Homo sapiens: one gene and its partners. The gene in region 3 interacts genetically with the main gene of each other region. Each region holds a gene or a part of one and is shown on either strand. Other genes may lie near its edges. The genes, in order: HEY2, APBB1 and NOTCH1.

Region 1 (7,931 bases), on a different chromosome or scaffold from region 3:
ATCTTTTTCTTTCTTTCTTTTTTTGTAAAGGAATAGGTAACTATGAAAAGGGGCATTTATGATTAACTTCATTTTTACCAAACTTCTAAAAAGATGACCCAAATCAAATGGCATTCTACCAACCCAGGGATTAAAAATGAAAGCAAATGGCTTGGTAAATAAATTTTAGTGGTATTATCATTTAGGAAATAGAGCTAGAGATGTTACTTCTTGGGCTCTGATTGTTTTTTAATTAAAAATATTACATTTTAAAAAAATTTTGAGAAAAAAATGGTTTTTTTTTTTTTTTTGAAGGATACGGTATACAGCACAGTTTTAAATAAAACCACTACTGGTATTCATAGAAAGAACAGAGAAAGCATGAACACTGTTACCCTTAAGGGGAAAATAAGCTAAAGAATGGAAATGTTTTTCAACTTCATGATGGATTATGTTTTTAATAGTTTTGCCACAACAAAGCATTTTATTGAAATAGCTGCTCTGTGCCAGATCAGGGCACATACACTATTATTTTAATGAGCTTTAACAAGAACCCACATTCCCAGATGAGCGAATCAGATTGTGTTTGAGCTTTTTTTTGGGGGGTGGCGGGGTGGGTGGGGGGATTCTGGGGAGGGGATAGCTTACTTGTTTTTCAAAAGCAGTTGGCACAAGTCTTCTCAACTCAGATAAACTGTTATTTATCCGATCCCGACGCCTTTTCTCTATAATCTATCCAAAAGAAGCAAACAACAAAAGTTTATGAATTCACAAATGATAAAATTACTCAAATGAAAAAATGTAACTGTTACACAATAGTATAAGTTACATGAAATAAAAAGGGGGAAAAATCACATACCCCTCTCCTTTTCTTTCTTGCCATAATCTGAGATGTTGTTGTTGGAGAATTCAATCTAATCACAGAGCTAGTACTTTGCCTATGAAATAAGAAGAGTATGTCAGGTGCTGCATTAACATAACAATAGTTTCTTCTGGGTACTTGTGGCACCCATTAAATATTCAGAGTGATTGCACAGTTCAAGTCTGTGTTATTTTATTCTTAGTTCTTGTTTCACTCTTAACGGACTTTGCTTTCAGCCCGGCTGTCTCTTTTCAGGTAAAAATTACGCCTTAATTTGTAATCCAGATGCTAACCCATTGGCCAAAATGTCCCACAATTTTTACTTGAAAGTCTCCCAGTGAAATAATTACCGGCAGTTGGGCTGAGAAGTTAGATATTAGCATTTCCTAGTTCCACTCATATATTTTAAAGTCAACTAATCTCAAATAGCTTTCCTTCTCCCTCCTGTCAGGCACACTGAACAAAATAATGCCACTTTTTCAAATCAGGGTTATGTTAAGCACCACTATCAAACAGATGTGCAGTCGTCATACGTCAAACTCTTGTCTCTAGGTGCAAACTTTAAAATAAATAGAAGTTATCTTACTGTTTCAAAACTTCAGTTAGTCATATATTGCAACAGGAAAAAATTGACAAACTTGATGTTTTGCATACTAATCTTCCAAAAATATGCCCTAAATATGCCACTGATAGGAAAATTAAAACTCATTTTATTACTAGGTGAATGTTTTACTTTGAAAATGAAACTGTAGGTGTGTCTCAGACTTTAGGCTAAGCTTAAATCTCCAGAAGCTGCAATGCACCTTGGATTTACTAATGAAAATATATTTTTATATTGAAGGTTCAATCAAAGTATTATTTGGTCACATAATTTTTACAATCCTTTCTAGTTTGTATCTGTTTCTCTTCATAATTCATGGATACTATGCTTCTTTGTGTTCTCAAATTCCCCAGGTTCCTGTTATTTGTTCTCTTTCATTTTAGAAATGCTGCACACACCAGGTTGCTATTACCTCACCTTCTCACTTCTGGATCTTATTTCTGAATTACCTGTCCCCCTCATTTTCACCCCTTCTTTACGGGTTTCACCTTTCACGTGATAGCTTCTGTTTTTCAGACCTCATTTTTAAAGACGGCACAACAACACTTTAATGATCAGATACTTAAACCTTTGCTTTCGTGTAAATATCTTTGCTCTTGCAGATTTTGTGCTTTGCTTTGTATGTATTAGAATAACAATATGAAAGAAAACCAGTTTTCCAAAGGTAGGAAGAATTTCCCTCTTTGAGTGACAGCTGCAGATAAATAATTAAGGTGCTTCTGGGGATGCCAATTAGAAGCAATTATCATTTGACCCGCCTTGGCTCTAAAATGCCTCGGTAATCTCCCTCTGTCACAGGAAAGTGGAGGTCTGGCTTCTGTGATTACGACGCCGATCTCTTCCAGACTTGAGAACAAGCAGTCAAAGAAATGATGCCCTTTCCGATGCTTACATCTGTCACTCACTCTTGCGTTAGCCAAGTCACACACGGTCAACCTGCAAAGTTCAACCTACGTAGCCTTGACATCGCAGGTTGCTTTAATTCCTCCAAAAATCAAGTTGTGATTTTGGTATCTCTAAAAATCAAAAATCAAATTGTTTTTATTTTCTCCTGATCTATTTTGAAAGTGCCCCCAAATACGGTTTCAGTGGCTGGGACATCGCCTGTCGCCCAGACGCTGCCGTTCGCGCGTCCAACTGTGACAGCCAGGACCCTCCCTCGCCAACTCCTGCGCTCTGCCTTTCAGTGGCGTCTCCCATCCTGGCTACTCCACCCCTACGGTGAAAATCCACATCCCTTGCCCCATCCCAACTCACGCTCTGCGAGCGCCCACCACTCAAACTTTCTCAGGCCAAACTTTCCCTCTCTACCTAGATGCTGCGGAGACCAGCCTCGGGATTTCCAGGGAGCCACGCATTCACAAAGCTACCCCAAGCTCCCGAGCTGCGGGCCGCTCCCGCGGAGCCCGCGCTCACCCCGAGTAATTGTTCTCGCTCCCCACGTCGATGGTCTCGTCCATGTCGCTCTCGGAGGTCGTCTCCTCGCAGGGGCGCTTCATCCCGGCGAAGACCGCGCGGGGCACAGCCCGGCCGGAAGCTCGGACGCCGAGCGGGGCGCAGCACCCTGACGCCCGCCTCCTCCCTCCCCGGGCCTGGGCAGGCGCGGCTCCGGCGGCGGCGCGGTCTGCTCCTAGCGGCTCTTTCCCACGCCGCAACTCTGCTCGGCCGCAAGAGCCGGCGCCGGCCACGCCCCCCCCTCGAGCGGGTGGGGCCACCTCACCCGCCCCCGCGCACCGGCCCAGGCCTTCCGCCCGGCACCTCCCCCTCGCTGGTCGGCGTGGCTCGCGATTGGCTGGGCCAGGGGGCGGGGCCGCGCTCGCCAATGCCCGCCGCAAGGCTCCAGCCGAGGCGTGGGAACGCGGCCGCGGACCTGGTACCCCAGAGCAGCGAGCGGGTGGGGAGCAGCCGGGGCGAGAATGAGCGCAATCTTGCTAACCCCTGCGGAGGGAGCGCGCGGGCGCCAACGCGGGCGCGCGGGGGCGGGCCCTGGACCTGGACCTTGGGTTTCGGCCCTCCTCCGCGCCCCGCGGTCTCGCGGGCGAAGTTTCAGTCCTGAGTGTAAAGAATAACCCCAAGCGCGTGGCTAAGTGCGAGCAGGCGCGTGTGACGTCGGGAGGCGCCGCGGCTCCTCGGCCGCCCCACTCGGTGGTCCCCTGTCTGGATCCAAACTGCTGACTGGCTGACCCGAGTGGTCACATTTGCCCTCTGGGGCTTTTGAAAACCTTAAATCAAAATTGCTTTTGAATCTGACAACTCCTGAGGCTACTTTCGCGGCCTCGGGGCTGTTTCATATAAGGACGCGAGTTTTCCTGATCAGGTCTGTCGGCCACGTTACGATTTCCAATTTGCGATCCATCAGTTACTTCCATTGGGTCTTCAGCCCCCAGGGACTGTGGATCCTAGACCCCGCGGAGAAGCCCGTGGACTGGAGCTGTGTCAGCTCTGATGGTAGGAAAGACTAGATCAATGACGCGGGCATTTCAGGACATAATCGTATATTTTCAAGTTCGAGTTTTTCGGGCTTGGATTATCCAGATAATTGCCTCCAGTCTCCTCCAGTCCCCCTGGTGTATGCACTCGCAGCCGCAGAGTTAGAGTCCGGGAGGTGAAGATTGGCGCTTGGAAATTAGATTTGGTTTCTAAAGTATGAATTCGTGTCCAACAGTTCGTGCCTTGGACAACGTGGGTTGTATAAAACTCAAGCTGTGTGTTTAAAACAGGTTTTCTAGCTGCTGGTTCTCTCCAAGTTATGTAGGACTTTTGAACTGGCCACCCCGCTGTGCGTCTGCGAGGGCAGGGACTGAGCGAGACCCAGCCAGGGGCGCCGGGAGACTGGCGGCGGCTGGGTTGGGGTCCAGCCGGAAACCACACGTTGGCAGGGCCGCTTGGTCAGTAGTGGAGAGAGCCTCTGAGAAAGGGCCGTCTATCGATCCCCAGACCCCTCCGTCACGGAGGGATTCATAGCTTCCTGGGGATCGGCCCAGGGCGTCCCTTTGACACTCCGTTCTCTGTCCACACAAGCCCGGCGCGGGGCGGGGAGAAGAGGAAAGGACGCGACTGGGAAAGACGGGACCCTGGCGGGGTTTGGCCCGGGGGAGAGCGGGAAGGAGCCCGGTCGGCGCGGAGGACCTGCGGCCAGCGTGCTAAGCCCTTATTAGAACAGAAACCCCTTTCCCCCCACACTCTCATCTCTTTTGCGCGGTCCCCACCGCCATGCCTTCAATAACCTTGTGAATAGAAACCCGAATCGTTCCATCTTGGCTTCTGAAACTTAACCCCAGGCAAAGCACACACTCGGCGGGGCCAGGTGGGGCTGGATGGGGTCCGCGCCCGACGGCGGGGCCGCGGGGGTCGGTGAACCCCAGCTCCCCTGTCGGCCTCAGGGCGGATGGCTGGGTCGGCGCGGGGTTCGGGGCCTCCGATCGGCTGCACGAGGGCGGGCCAGGACCCAGACCCCGTCCCCGCTCCGGCCCCGCAATCCAGCGGGTGACGAGCCTGACGCGCGCCGGTCGCCTGCCACCTCCCGCCCCGAGCGCCCTGGGCCAGTACCTCCCGGCCGCAGGTGAACGCTCCGCGGCCCGCCAGGCTCAAGCTCGACCGTCACAACTTTCCGTGAGGGCTGCACGTTTTTCTGAATTCAAATGCCTGCAGGTGCAACTCATGTTTGCCACACGGGCAATTAGCGGGCGCGTCCAAACGCCTGAGGCAAAACCTGAGATCATCACTGAAAAAAAAAAATCTAACAGTTCTTTGCCACTATACTAGTGTATTTAATTATGATTGCGAAAAATTGCAGAGGGAAACGATTTGCTGGCAATTAAGTAGCAACTGGTTAAAGTTTTTTTTCAATTTGTCTTTGAAGACAACTGCTGTACTATGTATAAAGAAGAGTATAGCAGGGAAGTTCGAAAGCACACACGGAATTTTAAATCTGTTAAAAATATTTTTTAAGCAAAGAAGGTGGTATTTTAAAAGCATTTAAAACAGCGCCTGGTATATAGTAAGCGCCATAGAAGTCTGTTAAGAATGCATAGGGCAAGAGAGCTCAGGGTTTTGAACGCTATCAAAATAATATGCTTATTTATCTGCAAAACACAATAGCAATTAGGCAGCACGAGATTTCCCCATTAGGTCGTTTATTCTCCTCAGCTGTTTATTCCATTTGCCTGTCCCTTGGTTGAGCGCCTTGTCTGTCTATAACCGAAAGTGCGTTTCGGGTCAGAGAGACAGAAACAGACACAGGAAACCCTTTAAAGCGCCCCCGCCGACTTAAATACGGTAGTGGATTGGAGGTGGGGAGGTGTAGGGGAGGCGTTATGTGGAGAGAAAGAAAAGAGAAAGAATGAGGGAACGGCGGGATTTCAAGCCTCCCCGCCCTTCTGCGACAACCTTTTCAGCGAAAGGGAAGGCTTAGGAAGAAAAGATGTCCGCGCGTAGAGCAAACCGCAGTTCTTTCCTTTCTTTTTGAAGGATTTGTACCATGAGTTAATTACACCAAAAGATACGAGGGACTTTATTAGAAAGGAGATGCCGTTAGGAAAGAAAGGCCAGGACGGCCGATCTAAAGGGAATGGAGAAGGGAAGACTCAGACGCCCTCCCGAAATTGGTGGTCTAGCCTGTGTTTTGTGCTAAATGTTATTTAACTTAATGGCGTGGGAGTGAGATGTTGAATGCAGAGATCTGGAAATACCAGATTTAGTGGTCCTGTTCCTCCTCCCCGACTCTTTTCACACCCATTTAATAAAAAGTTACAGTTTTTACACCCGTATTGATAAATTTGGCGATGTTGGCCAAGTATTATCTCGCCCCGCAGATTTTGAATTTTGTTGCACAAACCGATGAAATGATTGCTTTGCTATAATTGTAAAACTTTTTTGGAACGAACCTGGATTTTTTTTATGCCTCTTCATCTACTTTTTGCTTCATTAGAGCCCTCTGGTTTTCCAAGATCGACTGTCACACTTTGTTATTTGTTGCTTCTCTAAATCCTTTGAGATGCTGCTCGCAGCTACGTAAAAAACGTTGGCCACTCAGGTATTTGATGGGCTTAGAAAGTCACCAAGATGTGACACCATTTAAAAGTTTTAGCTTGGTTTCTCAGTGAAATAAGGGCATCTCTGTTAATTAGAAAACTTTGTGTTAGTCTGAGATGCCTAAGAGCATAGTCCAAATTGAAAATTCCAATATTTTGCCACATCTGAAATATAATTATTTACACAGCCTTCTCTTTCAAAGGGAGGACAAACAGGTTGCCTTGAGAAGAGCTATTCTATTTGCAATTGCTGGGGCAGGTGACAAACACGTGTGTATCTGTGGGCAGCCTTGTTGGGCTGCCTTCCCTGACTACAAGGCTTTTGTGAGCTGGTAACGCCTTAAAATGTGTGAGAATGCTGCGCCCTAGGAGTGGAGGCCAAGGGCAAGATCCTTGTACATTTCAATACCTTTTCCAACATCAGGCTGGCAGCAGGCAGGCCAACCTAGGGTCACTGTGTGACACATATTTGCAAGCCAGTAAAGCAAAACAAAGCTGAAAGCAAGTGCAAATTTAGGCCCACCAACCTTGAAGTCATCCCTGAAAGGGAGCTGCTTTACTAGTTAATTTTTCTTGCCCAGTCAGCCACACAAAATGCATTGTATTTCTTGGCTTGCCCCAGTAATTGCGACTTACTTGTTACAGCAGAAGCTTCAAGGTAGGAAATCTATGACCCAAAGCTCTCTCTCGAAAGTTAGAATGTTTAAACTGATCTTTAAAACTGTTGTTGAGGGGCAATTTATTTAAAAGCTTTTATTTTATGGTGTTGTTAGTGCTTAGCATGCCTCAGGATAAAGACTAGTTTTATTGCAGGACCCTTGAGAAGAGGGGTGTATAGCAAGTAACCAGTTTTCCGTGTGCCAGTAAGCAACAGTGAGAACACTCAGTGTATTAGCTTAACTTTTTGTGGGAGTTAAATTGATGTTGGCAGGCTTTGCCTTTAAGGAAGTTCTTTTAAATTTCCATTTTCTTGAAGTTGGTTTGATTGGCAGATTTCCCCCCTCTCTTAAGGATACAATGAAACATATTCACTTCTCTTATGAAAATATTCTTTTAATAAACTACATTCCCATCCCCTAGAAAAATGCCCAGCACACAGTAGGGGTACAATAAATGGTTTCAGATTAATTTCTTGTTAAAATTAATGAACTCTCTGCTTCTTTACTTGTATATGTAGAATTTACACTCATTGGAATAATAAAATAGAAGTAAGCAACCGTGCATTAAAAAGCTATGAAAAGATGAAGAGAATATGCCTTCAAATGGGAAGGAATACTTAACTGTGAATAAGACCTAGTTCAACATGGAACTTCCTGGTGGCCAAGTCAGAAGAGAAGCACAGTGAGTTTTCTAACTTTCATAATGAGAAAAGAGAAAGCACACTGTTTTTCAAAAAAGAAAGTTATTACCCAGTCACTGAATTCTAAAAGAACTTCATGCTTGCCTTGTTCATGGA
Region 2 (7,807 bases), on a different chromosome or scaffold from region 3:
TTCCACTCCCAACACGACTCAGTAACAGCTCCTACCAAGGTCAACATGACCCCTGTGTCATTCAATCCAACAGACACAGTGCTCGTCTTGGTTGTCCTCCCAGCAGCATCTGACCCCGTGAATCTCTCATCCAGCCTCTATCCGGGGCCTCCACACTCTCATCTCCACACTCCTCATCTCATCTCATCTTTTACACTTCTTGTTACTGTTTGCTGGGTTCCTAGACTCCTCTGCTGGCTCATCTTCCTCTATTAGCCATTACCTGCTGGAGTTTCTTATGGCTTATTCTCATGCCCCTTCCTCTTTCTCATCCTATAATCAGTATAAGTATTCATTAATGCCCACAGCTTCAGTTATACACTGATGATTTCCCAATTCAAATCTCCATTTCAGACCCCTCACCTGAGCTCCAGACAAGTACATTCAACTTTCTACTCAACATCTCCACTTGGATGTCTCAAGCTAATAGACCCACTCATGTTTCCCACTCCCACACACTAACTGGTCCTCTTTCAGGATCCCGGCTCATGGAATGATAGAATCCATCCTATTCTGTGAATCTGAAGTAGGGGTACATCTTGACATGTCCTTCTCCTGCACTTGCTATGTTCAATCCATCTCTAGGTACTGATGATTTCCTCTCTGAGAAAAATTTCTGGACTTCATCTACTCTCCACATCCACTACCATCAAGGACAAAGACCTTAAGACAAAATTCCCTTTTTTTTTTTTTTGCGATGGAGTCCTGCTGTGTCACCCAGGCTACAGTGCAGTGGCAAGATCTCGGCTTACTGCAACCTCTGCCTCCCGGGTTCAAGCGATTCTTCTGCCTCAGCCTCCTGAGTAGCTGGGATTACAGGCACACACCACCATGCCCGGCTAATTTTTGTGTACTTTTAGTAGAGATGGGGTTTCGCCATGTTGGCCAGGCCGGTCCTGAACTCCTGACCTCAGGTGATCCGCCCGCCTTGGCCTCCTAAAGTGCTGGGATTACAGGCGTGAGCCATCACGCCTGGCCCTTAAGACCAAATTCTTAACATGGCCTAAATTTCCTGCTCAGTCTGGCGCCTGCCTTCCTCCTCCCTGCCCCTGGCTTTGGTCACACTGCTCTGCAGCCTCAGTAGCCTTCTTCTGATTCCTCGAAGACATGTGTTTTCCTTCTACAAGGTGTTTGCATGTGATTTCCATGCTTCCTGGGACCTCTTCTCCTACTCTCTAAGCTGAATTAACTTCTACTCATCCACTATATTTTAGTTCAAACGTCATGTTCTCAGAGAAGCTGTCCTCCAACCCTCTCTCCCTATCCCCGAGACCAGTTTAGCTACTGCTCTTGTGCGTTCTCAAGGCACCATACAGCTTTTCTTCATGGTACATATTACATTTGTAATGTTATTCTTATTTGATTTTTCTCCTAGATTGTCAGCTCCAAGGACTCAGTCTCTTTTGCTCACAATTATATCTTCAGGACATAACACAGTGCCTGGCATATATTAGGTGCTGAAATCATATTTATTGCATGAATAAGTGATTGGAAGCATTTTTCAAAGGATTACTCTGGGTACTGTGTTGAGAACAGTTAAAGGGAGGTAGGCAAGAGGGTATGCTATTAAAGTAGTCAAGGAAAAAAAATGGTGGTGGCCCAGATTAACTTTGGTGGCAGTGAGGAAAGAGCGAAATGAATGGATTTGAGAAATATTTAGGCAGTGGATGTGACAGAACTTGGTGAAATGAGATGCAGAGAGTGAGAGAGGGGTTAATCTCAAGTCTTGCTCATGACTCCAGATTGGCAAAGAGCCATTTTTGAGATTCGAAGGAAGAACAGATTTGGAAGTGGGGTACAGAGAAAACCACAGAAGATAATTTAGCTTGGAATCTATAGGTTTGGAACTCCTGTTTGTCTTTCAAGGAGATGTCAAGAGAGCAGCTGGACATATGAGTCTGGATTTCAGGAAAGAAGTCTGGGCTGGATATATAAATTTGGGAATCATTAGCATATATATGAAATTTGAAGCTTTGGGAGTAGATAAAATATCTGGGGAGAAAGAACAGATACTGAGAGAAGACAGCTCGGGACAGAGCCAAGAGCCTCACCAGCATCTAAAGAGAGGAGGAGAGGAAGCAAATGAGATTGAGAAGAGCAGACAATGCTGTAGGGCAGAAAGCAGGAAAATGCTTCAAGGAGAGTGAGTTGACATACCCCACCGAATACTACTCAAAGGTAAAGGAGATAACAGTGTCCACTGGAGTTCTCCACAAGGAGGTCTCCGGTGACCTTGGCCTAGACAGTTTCAGTGGGTGTCAGGGACACAGAGTGGAGTGCTTTTAAGAATGAATGGGAAGTAAGGAAATGAAGACAGCAAGCGTTGACTCTGAAGGGCGGAGAGAGCTGGGACTATAGCTAGAGGGGCTCAGAATGCAAGAGATACACAGGCCGATACAAAACAGGTTAGGAATTGGCAGTGGGAAAACTGCTTCTAATCAGTGTTCTTGGCAGTGCTAGGCCTCCTGGCTGAGCTGGGGACACAGCCGCCCCAGGGCACACCCCTCGGTCGCTGAGGGCAACAGAATGCGGCTTGACAGATCCAGGGCCTGGGACCCCTGCTGGAATCGGCGCGGCCTGCCAGCCCACCCCACCCCACGTCCCCTTCCCGGACCTGGGCCTCCCCTCCCCCAACACCCACTGCCCCTCGCTTCGCGTCCTCCATACCCGCCCCTAGTCACCCCGAGGGGCAGGAGGTAAAGGGCAGCGGAAGGGACGGTGTGAGGGCCCGAGTGGACCCTGCGATGGTGGGTATGAGAGGACGGTCTGCGGGCGCGCGGTGGAAGGGCGACCCGGGGATGGGGGATGGGGCCGGCCGGGGGACCCGGGCTGCCGCAGGGTAGGGGCTACAGGGTCCGCCGGCCGCTGGTGATCGGGACGCAGCCACCGGGGCTGGGCCGGGGCAGGGACACCTCCTACCTGCGCGGTGAGGCCCCGGGCCCAGATGACGGAGGTGGCTCAGGCTGCGGGGTTCGGGCTCCGCCGCGGCTTCTCCATCACAACATCCCCCGCCCAGGAGCGCGCGGGCCGCGGGGCCGCGCCCCGAGCGGCGGAGGCGCGCGCAAGGGGAGGGGGAGGGGCGCCATCTTGGGGCGGGCGCGGGAGCGAGCTCGGCGGGCGCGGCACTTGCCGCAGCTTCTTGGGGGCCTCACCCTGCGGGCGGCCCTCGGACCTCGGTGAGCCCCGCGGTCCAGCCCTCCCAGCAGACACCCCTGCAGCCGACTCCCTGGGACCCCCGCCTAGCGCGGCGCCGTCCTCCACTACTATTCCACAGACTCACCCTGCGCGCCCCGCAGCGCCCTGGTCCCGCACCCACGCCGGGAGACGCGCGGACGGGGCTGGAGCCCGAATGGCGGCGGCTGTGCGGCGCCGCGGCCGCGCGGGGAAGGATTCCCGGGAGGCACTCTGCGCCGCTCCTGCTGCACCGCTCCCTGACGTCCTGGTGGGGAGGCTCTGAGGACACAGCGTTGCTCATAATAATAGCTCGTATTTATTGACCACTTACACCGTGCCGGGCTCTCTATTAAACCGTTAACGCGCATTAATCTTCACATCAGCTCTGTAAAATCACCAGAATTATTATCCTCATTTTTCAGAGGCTGAGGCTAAGATTAAGAGAGGTAAAGCGACTTGCCCGCAGTCACAGTTAGTGATGAATTTAGACTGGAACTCCGATGTTTCTTGACACTGAAATACCTCTGCTGCTGAGCATAAAGCTGACATCAAGGCCTGGAAAATGTCAAGAATACATTGCTCCCCGGTAGAAATTCACAAGGAAGGGGATATTGTGAATGAAAAGTGTAAAGATGTAAGGAAGATGGTGGGGTGCAATACTTACTACAGACCCTCCCTGGATAGTGGGATACATCCCAATGGTCAGATCAGTGACCCAGAGGCCATCAAGGATAATGAGAGGTTATATTACCATCCAGAAAGCCTCTACATGCTAATCCCTCTCAGGTGCCTAAAACTAAAGATATCCAAATCTGAGTTCGTTCTTTCTTTCAAGGCAGGGTCTCACTCTGTCACCCAGGGGCAAGATCATGGCTCTCTGAAGCCTCAGCCTCCAGGGCTCAGATTCCTCCCGCCTCAGCCCCCGGAGTACCTGGGCCACAGACATGTGCCACCGCGCCTGGCTTTTTGTATTTTAGTAGAGAGGGGGTCTCACTGTGTTCCCCAGGCTGGTCTGGAACTCCTGTGTTCAAGCGATCCTCCCACCTCGGCCTCCCAAAGTGCTGAGATTACAGGCGTCAGACACAGTGTCCAGCCTCAATTTATTGTTTCATCCCCCTTTATTAGTCTTTTAAGGAGTTTCACTGGGGTGAAAAAGAACCCTCTTCAACACACACAACACAACACACATCCCACACTGGACACAACTCCATTCCATCCATTCCAATGAATGACACCAACTACTGGCTTCCCAAGCCAGAAGCTTCAAAGTCATCTTTGAATATACTTTTATTTTACTTGTGGTAAATATAAATGTTTTAACTTTTTATTATGGCAAATTTCCAATATATACTAAAGCAGACAGAACAATATAATGAACCCTCATATACCTATCATTCAGTTTCAACAATTATGAATTCACAACCAATAGTTTATAATGATTTGACAAATGCCTATGATATATGAACCATGTATCAGGTCCCAAGCCAGGCCCTAGGGATCTAAAGACGAATCAGATTTGACTGCATCTCACCTGGAGGAAATGACATCTGACCTGGGTTCTTGAAAGATGAAGAAGAATTACCCAGAAGAACAAAAGTGTCCTCATTCATTCATTCATTCATTTTCTTTCATCAAATAATTACTATGTATGAGGTACTGTCCTTGGTGCTAGCAACAGGTCAAGAAACAAGATACAGTTCCGTCTCTCATACAGCTTGAAATTTAACAGGGGAAAGAGACATTAAATATGTAATTAGGAATGTGATGAGTGTCTTGAAGGAGATGTACCGGGAGCTATGTGAGTGGGCTTAATTTGGCCTGGGAAGTTTAGGAGGCTTTCATAGGAAGTGACAATTCAGTGAGGGAAAGGGATGAAGGAGCTAGAGGTCAGCCAGGAGAAGAGAAAAGTATTCCAAGTAGCAGGAGAAATACAGGAAGGTCAGTATGGGTGTTGATATAGTTTGGATATTTGTCCCTGATCAAATCTCATGTTGAATTGTAATCCCCAATGCTGGAGGTGGGGTCTGGTGGGAGGTGTTCAGGTCGTAGGGGTGGATCTCTCATGGCTTGGTGCTGTCTTCCCCATGATGAGTGAGTTCTTGTGAGATCCGGTTATTTAAAAGTGTGTGGCATGGCCAGGCGTGGTGGCTCAGGCCTGTAATCCCAGCACTTTGGGAGGCCAAGGTGGGCAGATCAACTTGAGACCAGGAGTTCGAGAACAGCCTGGTCCACATGGTGAAATCCCATCTCTATTAAAAACACAAAAAAATTAGCTGGGCATGGTGGCGGGCACCTGTAGTCCCAGCTACTTGGAAGGCTGAGGCAGGAGAATTACTTGAACCCAGGAGGCGGAGGCTGCAGTGAACCGAGATCACGCCACTGCACTCCAGCCTGGGCAGCAGAGTGAAACTCCATCTCAAATAAATAAATAAATAAATAAATAGTGTATGGCACCTCTCCCCCCACACTCTCTTGCTTCTGATCAGCCATGTGGGATGCCTGCTCCCACTTTGCTTTCTGCCATGAGTAAAAGCTTCCTGAGGACCCCCTGGAAGCCAAGCAGATGCTGGTGCTATGTTTCCTGTATAGCCTGCAGAACTGTGAGCCGATTAAACCTCTTTTCTTTTCTTTTTTTTTTTTTTTTTTTGAGACAGAGTCTCGCTCTGTCCCCCAGGCTGGAGTGCAGTGGCGCAATCTCGGCTCACTGCAATCTCCGCCTCCCGGGTTCACACCATTCTCCTGCCTCAGCCTCCCAAGTAGCTGGGACTACAGGCACCCACTGCCATGCCCAGCTAATTTTTTGTGTTTTTAGTAGAGATGGGGTTTCACCGTGTTAGCCAGGATGGTCTCAATCTCCTGACCTCGTGATCCGCCCGCCTTGGCCTCCCAAAGTGCTGGGATAACAGGCATAAGCCACCACACCTGGCCCTAAACCTCTTTTCTTTATAAATTACCCAGTCTCAAGTATTTACTTACAGCAACACAAGAACAGCCTAACAGTTGTGATAGTGGAGAATGGCATAAGATGAAATAGGAAGGTGGGAAAGTGCCAGATCAAGGAGGGCCTTATATGCTGAGCTAAGGGTTTGACCTTTATTTTAAGGGCAATGGAAAATCATGGAAGGGTTTGAAGCAGGAGAGGGGCATGTTCACACTCGCATTTTAGAAGATCGCTTTCAGCTCCTGAGGAAGAATAGATAGGTGGAAAGCAAAATTGGAAGAATATAGACCAGTTAGGAAGCAAGAGACCAGGTTAAAGATGATGATGGCTTGGACTCTGGTGGTGGGACTAGGGATGGAGAAAATTGCATAGGTTTAATAAATATTCAAGAGGTAGAATTCCCAGAAATCAGTGATCAGTTGGTTGATTAGCTATGGAATTGTAGATTTAAAAAATGACATCTAGATTTATTTTTGAGAAAATGAAAAAAAAAATCCAGAAGTATCACCCATTTACAGATAGCCCACCAAAATATTTGTCTTCCCAATCTCATTGAGCAGGAAGGCTGCAGTATTCAGGGAAATCTCTTCAGGTAAGAAGGACATAGATTGCATGATGAGGTTGAAGGGAGGACTCTAATTAGCTAGGGATGCCCATGTGCAGTTCACATGGGCATCTTTTTCCTTATGTATTTGACCCGCAGGCGATCTTCCTGAATTCCTGATCTCCTCTGAGGTCTGCAAAGTCTCCTGACCAATGGGGAATCAACCTGTGCCTTTCACCCATCCTTTCCCTACTGTAATCTCTTCCCTCTTCTGATGCTTTCTATGGTGTGGGAGCAACCAATGAATAGCCTATGAGCCACCTCAAATGCTGCATTTGGTTCTGACCAATGTGGGTTCCTCTGAGGCAGCAGACTTTGAAAATTATTACCTTGGACCTATCAGGAAAAAATTGAATTATAAGCAAATCCATCTAGAGTCATTTACCAAGAGTAGTGGCTTTATGCTATTTGGTTTGGTAGTCTAGCTAATTAGAATTACTAGGCAGTTGGCACCCAAGTCACCTATATGAAAGTATAGAGCTTTCATCTCTATTAAAAGTAAAGACACTTCTGGAATGAAGGCAGCTTTATCCTCCACTATATATAAGTACTGCTTTGGTATTGTAAATTTTCTTATGATTGATCTGACACACCTCTTTTCTTCTTGATGGCGGTTTTCATTTGGAAAATCTATAAGGAATAAAGTCTTCCCACATGCTACATGAAGTGGAATTCCTAAGTCAAATTCAAGACCTAGCAAAAACTTTCTCAATCCAATACCCTTCTTCAACAGAACTATTCTTTTGTTTGTTTATTATGAAGAGATGGGGGTCTCACTATGTTGCCCCAGCAGGTCAGGAACTCCTGCACTCAAGCAATCTTCCCACTTTGGTCTCACAAAGTGCTGGGATTACAGGGGTGAGCAACCAAGCCTGGTTCAACAGGACTATTCCAACAACTACCTAGAAGAGTATAGAGTGAGAAGAGAAAAGGACTGAGAACTGAACTCTGGAATGCCAGTGTTTAGGAGCCAGCACAGAAAAAGACAGTCAAGAAGAAAGCTGAGAATTAGCAGAAGGGTAAGAGAAGGATCAGGAGAGAGTAATGTC
Region 3 (7,100 bases):
AGGAGCAACGGGTACAGGGTAGGGGGGCGCACTGAGGACACTGCTGGGGAGTTTCTCCTCCCAGAATTCCACAGGTCTCGGAGATACACTGAAAGCAACCCCAAAATGCTAGGACCGCCTATAACCGCCCTGCACCACCCCTGGGGCAACCAGGCACCCCGATGCTAACACGCACGCATCCTCCCGACAGGGAGAAGTCCCCCAGCTGCCTGCAGACAGGGCCTCGCTGTCAAGGGCCACTGGCTGGCCTGGTGCCCTGCAGGGGACATGGCGCTTCCCCGTCCCAAGGGCAACTTGGAGAGGACACCATCTGTGTCTCAGAGTGAGGGGCCAGGTTCCTAGCTCTCTCCTGTCACACGGGCCTGGATCTAGGCCAGGGCATAGCCAGTCACTCTAAGCTGACCCTGAGGGTCCAGGGGGAGAAGCAGCCTGGAGCCAATCACACAGAGCTCTGTCCAGGGAAGGGAAGGCCCCGGAGCAGGCAGACTGGGCGGGTGGGGGCTGAGATGCCTGCCCGCCCCATGGATGTGTCCAAAGCCTCACTGCCCCCCGCTGCCCCAGCCACCGCCGCTCCTTTGGTCTGGAGCTCCCTGCCGCTGACCCTGTCCCAGCCAGCGTGGAAGCTGCTCCGTGGTGGGCCTCACTTGAAAGCCACAGCAGGTGCACCCAGATGGGGTCCCACAGCACTGACTTTGCACACAGGAGGCCATGAAGGCTGCAGTGACTACCCCTAGCTTGTGGCCAAGCCCGTCCATCCTGTGGCCTGGTTCTTAAGGGGCATGCTCCTCCCCTGCCCAGGGGGGCCTGCATCTGCCGTGCCCACCCATACCCCAGGGTTCAGCATGTAGTAGATGCTCAATAAAGACCCTCTACTTTGCATTCTTACAGCACCAGGCGTGTGGACGCTCAGTGACCGCGGCCCCACTGTGTGCCTCCTGGGGGCTAAGGGATGCTGAACAGCTTGGCGGCTGGCATGAGTGAGGCCCAGGGACAGGTTGTGAGCCTGTCTCGGAGTCCTGAGCAGGACAGGGGCCGCGGGCACGCCAGTCCATCCTACAGGTTCACCTGGGAATATGCCAGGACTCCCTCTAGGGGGCTCTGTGGCTGTCGGGTGGCTGCACCGGCCCAGAGTGAGCGCCATCTCTTCCAGGAAGCCACCCCGGACGCCCTCCCAACACCTGCCTCCTCTGGACTGTCTGGGAGCTGGGATGCTGGGGTCCACCTCTGGCCAGTCCCTGATGCTTCTGGAGGCTAAAATGTAGTCCTCAGAAGAATGCAGTTCTAGTCCACGCGTGACATGGATGAACCTTAAACACATCACGCTCAGTGAAAGAAGCCAGGGGCAAAAGACCACCTATGGCACAATTCCATTCATAGGCAACGTCCAGAAGAGGCGAATTCAGAGGCAGAAAGCGGGTTAGTGGTTGCCAGGGGCTGGGGCAGTCAGGGCAGAGTGACAGTATTTGGGTACAGTTTCTGTTTTGTGCAGTGAGAAAGTCCCGGAACTAGATAGTGGTTGAATGAACTTGTGAATGGACTAGATGTCAAGCAACAGCATGCTTTAGTTCAAAAGTCACATTTTCAGCCTGGACAACATAGCAAGACCCCGCTTCTGCAAAAAAATTTAAAATTAGCTAGGCATGGTGGTGCACACCTGTGGTCCCAGCTACTCTGGAGGCGGAGGCAGGAGGATCGCTTGAGCCCAGGAGTTTGAGGCTGCAGTCAGCCGTGATCCCACCACTTCACTCCAGCCTGTGTGACAGGGTGAGACCCCATCTCAAAAAACAAAAAAGTGGCCATGCACAGTGGCTCACGCCTGTAATCCCAGCACTTTGAGAGGCCAAGGCAGGTGGATCACCTGAGGTTAGGAGTTTGAGACCAGCCTGACCAATATGGTGAAACCCTGCCCCTACTAAGAATACAAAAATTAGCTGGGAGTGGTGGTATGTGCCTGTAGTCCCAGCTACTCAGGAGCATCGCGTGAATCTGGGAGGCAGAGGTTACAGTGAGCCAAGACTGCGTCACTCTAATCCAGTCTGGGTGACAAAGCAAGACTCCATCTCAAAAAACAAACAAAAAAAGGCAAATTTTGTAATATGAATAAGTCATCACCCAGAATCCCTCCATATACATATCCATCCCCAAACCAGTCCTTAGCTCCCTTTGCTCCCAGGGAGCAGGGTGGGGTGGGGCAGGGCCACAAGGAGAACCCAACCAGGCAACTTTGGAAAAGGGCTTCCCTCCACCCTCCCACCCCTGCAGCCACTGCCCCTTCCCCAGCTGGGGCGACCACCGAGCCCAGCGCAGGCCTCGCCGCAGGGCCCACAGCCACCACCACGCCTTCAGCCCGCCCCAGGGTCCCGCTGGCTGTAGTTGGAAGGGGAATCACATACAGATGGGGAAACTGAGGCCCAGGGAGGGGACAGTGTGGGGAGCACAGCAAATCAGAGCCAGCCCTGCTTCACAGCCCCTCGGAGCTCCGGGCCCCACAGGAGAAAGCGCCAGCGCTGCCTGGGAAACTCGAGGCCGTCAAACGCAGCCCGGCCCACAGGTGTGATGCCCCAAAGCCAGCCGCTCGTTAAAGCTGCTGGTATTTCCTCCTCAGCCCGGGGAAAGATCCGGAAAGTTCTGGATATGCCTGCACATGAAGGTGAAAGCTGACGCCAGCCTGCCTCAGATCCCCACGCCCTCGCAGCCACAGCTTTCCCACCTGTGCGCTGGGGATGAAAACTGCACTGGCACACCTGGAGGGTGGGCGGCCGTCTGCCAGGGCTTTTACGAGGCTGGGTAACAGCGGCGTCCTGAGTGTGGAGCTGTCATCGCTGCATTATTGAGGAAGGCAAGCTAGACGCCCAATCGATTCTGCAAAGCCACATCCTTTCACTATTTATAGACGAGACATGAAACAGGAAAGGTCCCCTCCCCACAGCAAAAGGGTGCAGTCCCTCGGCCCGGCCTGGAACTGCCCAGTGGGCACCGGTGGCCGCTGCTGCCCATCACAGGTGCAGGGAATGAGGAATGAAGCCAGTCCCGGCTCCTGTGGGGTCTCCAGTTTGCCGCCCGCATCTGGGGGTCCCCGCACCCAGCTCTGCCCTGTGGAAGCACTTCCCCTGGTGCACTGTCTGCCCTGCCCTACCCTCTTCCTGCCAGGGTTGCTGTTTTCTTTCTCCCTCTCTCTTTTTCTATTATTATTCTTTTCAATGGAAAACATGTTGGCTGCTGTTCAGAGGCAGGGCCTGCCCCAAGGAGCCAGCTTCCTTCAGAGCACTCCAGGCTCCCACCCCAGTCTCCGCCCCAGGCCTTCCTGTTCCTGATGTCTCCCCAGTCTGAGTAGGTGAGACTTTCTATTTGACACTGTGTGGGGTTTTTTTTGTTGTTTTTTGTTTTTTTGAGACAGAGTCTCACTTTGTCACCCAGGCTGGAGTGCAGTGGCACGATCTCAGCTCACTGCAGCCTCCGTCTCCTGGGTTCAAAGGATCCTCCTGCCTCAGCTTCCCAAGTAGCTGGGATTACAGGCACACGCCACTGCGCCTGGGTAATTTTTGTATTTTTAGTAGAGACGGGGGTTTCGCCATGTTGGCCAGGCTGGTCTTGAACTCCTGACCTCAGGTGATCTGCCCACCTCGGATGCTGCATGTTTTTAAACATGTTTTTCTAACCCTGGCGCCCTTGAAGACCAGGTTCTGCATAAACAGGAGGTCCTGTCACAGGCCTTTCCGCTCAGCTCAGCATGAGGAGGAGAATCAACCTGTTCCTCCCCTGGCCACGCCCAAGACGAGGCAGGTGACTCAATGGAAAGAGCCAGACCGGGTGACAGGAGCTACCCCGTCCCTCCCCAGCCTCCCAGGCCGGCTGCAGGGCCAAGTCACTTCCCGCCTGAGCCTCCTTCCTCTTCTTTTAAGGGGAAGCCACGCCCCCAGTCCGCTTGTAGTCGGGAAATGACGGGGCAGCTCAGGCTGGCTGGGGCTGTGTTTAGGGACATTCGCTTGGGAGAAGGAGAGGGGCAGGGCTAGTAGGAATTCTGCCACTGCTGTGTGACCCTGGGGCTGATGGCGACTTCTCTGGGTCTCTTCTTCTCACTTATCGGTGCCTGATCCAGACAGCTTTACGGGGCTGCCGGGAGCTATGCCAGGCCACCACCGGGCCGGCACACCCCCAACATGTCCCACATGTGAGCTAGGTGCCTCTCTCACGCCTTGCTGGGAAGTGAACTCCACAGGAGCAGGGGCCATGTCTGCCCTGTCCCCACCGGGGGCCTGGCCTGGAGCAGAACGCAGCACACAGCAGGCGCTCAAACGTGTCTGTGAACTGGAGCCACCCTGGGAGATGGACTTCCCCGGAGCTGGAGCCATCCTGGGAGATGGACTTCCCCAGAGCCGGCAAGTCCCTCCCCAGGCAGTGCCAGGCCCAGCCCACCAGGCAGCACCTTTAGGATTCTCTGAATTCACTCGTCAATCAATTAAACATTCAGGAAGGAGGCTCTGGAAACCAGCACTGTCAGCCAACGGGGAGAAGGCGGGGAAGAAAGGAGCGCTGACCAGGTGCCCTCTCCACACGGTTCTCATGCAATCCTCACACACCACCAAGAGATCCAGCGTGTATCAGCCCGGCTGACATGCTGGGGAAACTGAGGCTTGCATGACCTGATGACCCAAGGTCACAGAGCTAGTGGCCAGGCCAGGCCTCAGACACGAGGTTGTCCAAAGCTAAAGCGCACCACCCAGCAGGCAGCTGGACATCCTCCTGGAGGTGCTGGGTGTGACAGCCTACCCCCATTTCTCCCAGCTCCTGGAAGACGCCCCGTGCCATTCTGACTCTGCCGTCAGCAGCCAACATCTTAGCTGCCCCCTGCCTCAACGCCCAGCCCAGACGCAGGCAGCCCTGGGAGAGCGTTTCAGACCAAGGACGTAGTCTCACCCAGACAGATAGGGTCCCTGCAGCTCTTCCCAGCTCTCCTCAAAACAAAGAGAAAAAAGGTGGAGCCCTCTTCAGTACCCCTTGCTCACACTGACGGAGCTGATGAGGGGGCTAGAGAAGAGCCAAGGGCCACAGTGACCCCCTGGGCCTGCTCAGAAGGCCACCATCTCCGACCACAGCCACCACGGCCACACCTCGCACAGCAGCTGCCCAGAGACCAACCATCCTCCGCCCACCAGCATGTGCTGCCAGGTGCTTTCTACCTGGCCACTGGCTGACCAGGCCACGGCGACACTCTGACCTCCTGGGAAGGCATTTTGCACCAACAAAACCACTTTTTCCAATCCCGGGCCCTGCAACCACCTGATTGGCAGCTTCCGGTGAAGGTTCCTTCTCTTTGGGATGGAAAGAAATGATTCACCCAGTACTAGTGAGCCAGGCACTGTGACGCCCATCATGACCATGCCCCTTCTACAGCGGAGGCAGCAAATGGCACCAAAAGCCAAAGCTCTTTCCGGGGTCACAGCTGGATACCACGGGGCCAGGATTCCCACTCAGGCTGGCAGGGCTCCAAGAGCCTGCACCCCAGACTCTTTCGAGAAACAGTGTGGGTTTCTCCCCTTGCTGGGGGAGCCAGGCCTCCTGCAGGTGCCCTGGCTAACTCCTGGACAGACCTCCTGGGCCTTCTGAGAAGGATGGGCAGGAACGGGAAGGCAGAGGCACCTGAGGGGTGTATGTTGGGTGGGGCTCAAGCCCAGGGAGGGAGCCCGGGGCCTTCTCCGAAGCGGCTGCAATGTCCCCCAGACTGCTGTGTGAGCCCTGACCTGTGCCTCCACAAGCCGGGCTCGGCTGTGGCCCTGGCCTCCAACTCTGCGGCCCAGAAGCAGGAGCCTGAGGACGCGCTTCCGTCCCATCTTCTCGTTGGACTTGTGGGGTGTGCACAATGGGGTCTCTGTGGGCTGAGCTCGGCTGCCTGTCAGGCCAAACTGAAGCAGGCTTCCCGCCAAGAAGGAGGGGGCGCCAGGCCCCAGCAAAGGGGACAAGGCCAGGCACCAAAGCCATGGTCGGCGGCCTGCCTTGGGCTGGAAACAGCTCACCGGGATCCCAGGTTTGGGGAATGGGAAAGTGGGCCCATGACACCAGTGTTTTGCGGCCCTGTGGCAGGGTTTTAACCCAGACACCAGGGAGCTGCAGCAATCTGTACCCCAAAGCACAGCGCTCTGGCCCAGGGAGACCTCAGTCCCAGACCCCTGTGGGCCAGGCTGTGCCTACTCCCTGGTGCCACTGAGAAGAAGCAACAGGCCCCCAATTTTCCCAGCACGGTGTTCCTCCCACCCTCCCAAAGTCCTCTGCAGGAGCAAGAAGCTTCTCCCAGAGCCCCGAATGGGTGAGAGGCAAAGTCCGAGCCGGGAGCGCAGTGGCGGGGAAGGGGGTTATACATTCTGGGAAGCCACGCATAATTAATCACACGGCATTAATCCGCCTCCCCCAACAATAGCTGCTGCACTTCCCCTGGATCCCAGCTGTCGGTCTCTGAATGAAAGGAAACAAGATTTAGGGCATCAAGCGTCCGTGCGGCTTCTGCAGAGGGAGAAGGGGGCCCCAAAAAGCAAAAAAAAAAAAAAAAAAAAAAGTAGTGCGCATTCATTAGTGTCTGACAAAGACACAATCGGCTTTGTCCATTAAACTGCTCACAGACCTGCTTAATTGGCTTCAGTTTGGGGAGGGTGGGGGCCGGGGAGGGAGGGGGCCTGCTGCCCACAGGCTGGGCAGTCGGCACAGGCAGGAGCCGGGCTGGGGTTGTCAAGGGAATGGGACCTTCTGCAGTTGGAATGAGGGCGCGCAGACTGGCTGGGGAGCCATTTCTTCATCTGTAGCTCCTGGGGGGCGGAGGGAACTCTTTTTCCAGACACCAAACACCTCCTCATTATTCTCATCAGGGATGGACTCAAGTTGAAGGGCATCGGCCACAGCAGAACAGTTCCCCACGGCTGATGGGCACTCACAGGCAGGCAGGAGGGAGCGGTTCCGCACGACTTCCCGGCCCCCTCAGTGCCCATTTTACATCTGAGGCTGGCAGACCAGAAGGGCCACGGGATTTTGAGGTCAGAGTTTGCAGATGCCAGGACAGAAACCAGACTCAATAATTACCCCACACCCCACGCCAAAACATGAGTTCCACC

What was found.
Region 1: changes in NOTCH1 (region 3) and HEY2 together harm fitness more than expected from each alone (negative genetic interaction), as found in Homo sapiens cells (one study listed by BioGRID).
Region 2: of NOTCH1 (region 3) and APBB1, changing one suppresses a phenotype caused by changing the other (phenotypic suppression), as found in Homo sapiens cells (one study listed by BioGRID).

The regions. Positions count from the first base shown.
Region 1 is NC_000006.12:125,744,787-125,752,717, reverse strand, and holds the start of HEY2 (hairy/enhancer-of-split related with YRPW motif protein 2), read right to left. Parts: upstream 3,087-7,931; 5' UTR 2,942-3,086; coding exon 2,859-2,941; intron 2,849-2,858; exon of another isoform or gene 1,192-2,848; intron 918-1,191; coding exon 839-917; intron 712-838; coding exon 628-711; intron 1-627. UniProt on the Homo sapiens protein: Downstream effector of Notch signaling which may be required for cardiovascular development. Transcriptional repressor which binds preferentially to the canonical E box sequence 5'-CACGTG-3'.
Region 2 is NC_000011.10:6,416,027-6,423,833, forward strand, and holds the start of APBB1 (amyloid beta precursor protein binding family B member 1), read right to left. Parts: upstream 3,069-7,807; 5' UTR 2,959-3,068; intron 1-2,958. UniProt on the Homo sapiens protein: Transcription coregulator that can have both coactivator and corepressor functions. Adapter protein that forms a transcriptionally active complex with the gamma-secretase-derived amyloid precursor protein (APP) intracellular domain.
Region 3 is NC_000009.12:136,536,017-136,543,116, forward strand, and holds part of NOTCH1 (neurogenic locus notch homolog protein 1 preproprotein), read right to left. Parts: intron 1-7,100. UniProt on the Homo sapiens protein: Functions as a receptor for membrane-bound ligands Jagged-1 (JAG1), Jagged-2 (JAG2) and Delta-1 (DLL1) to regulate cell-fate determination.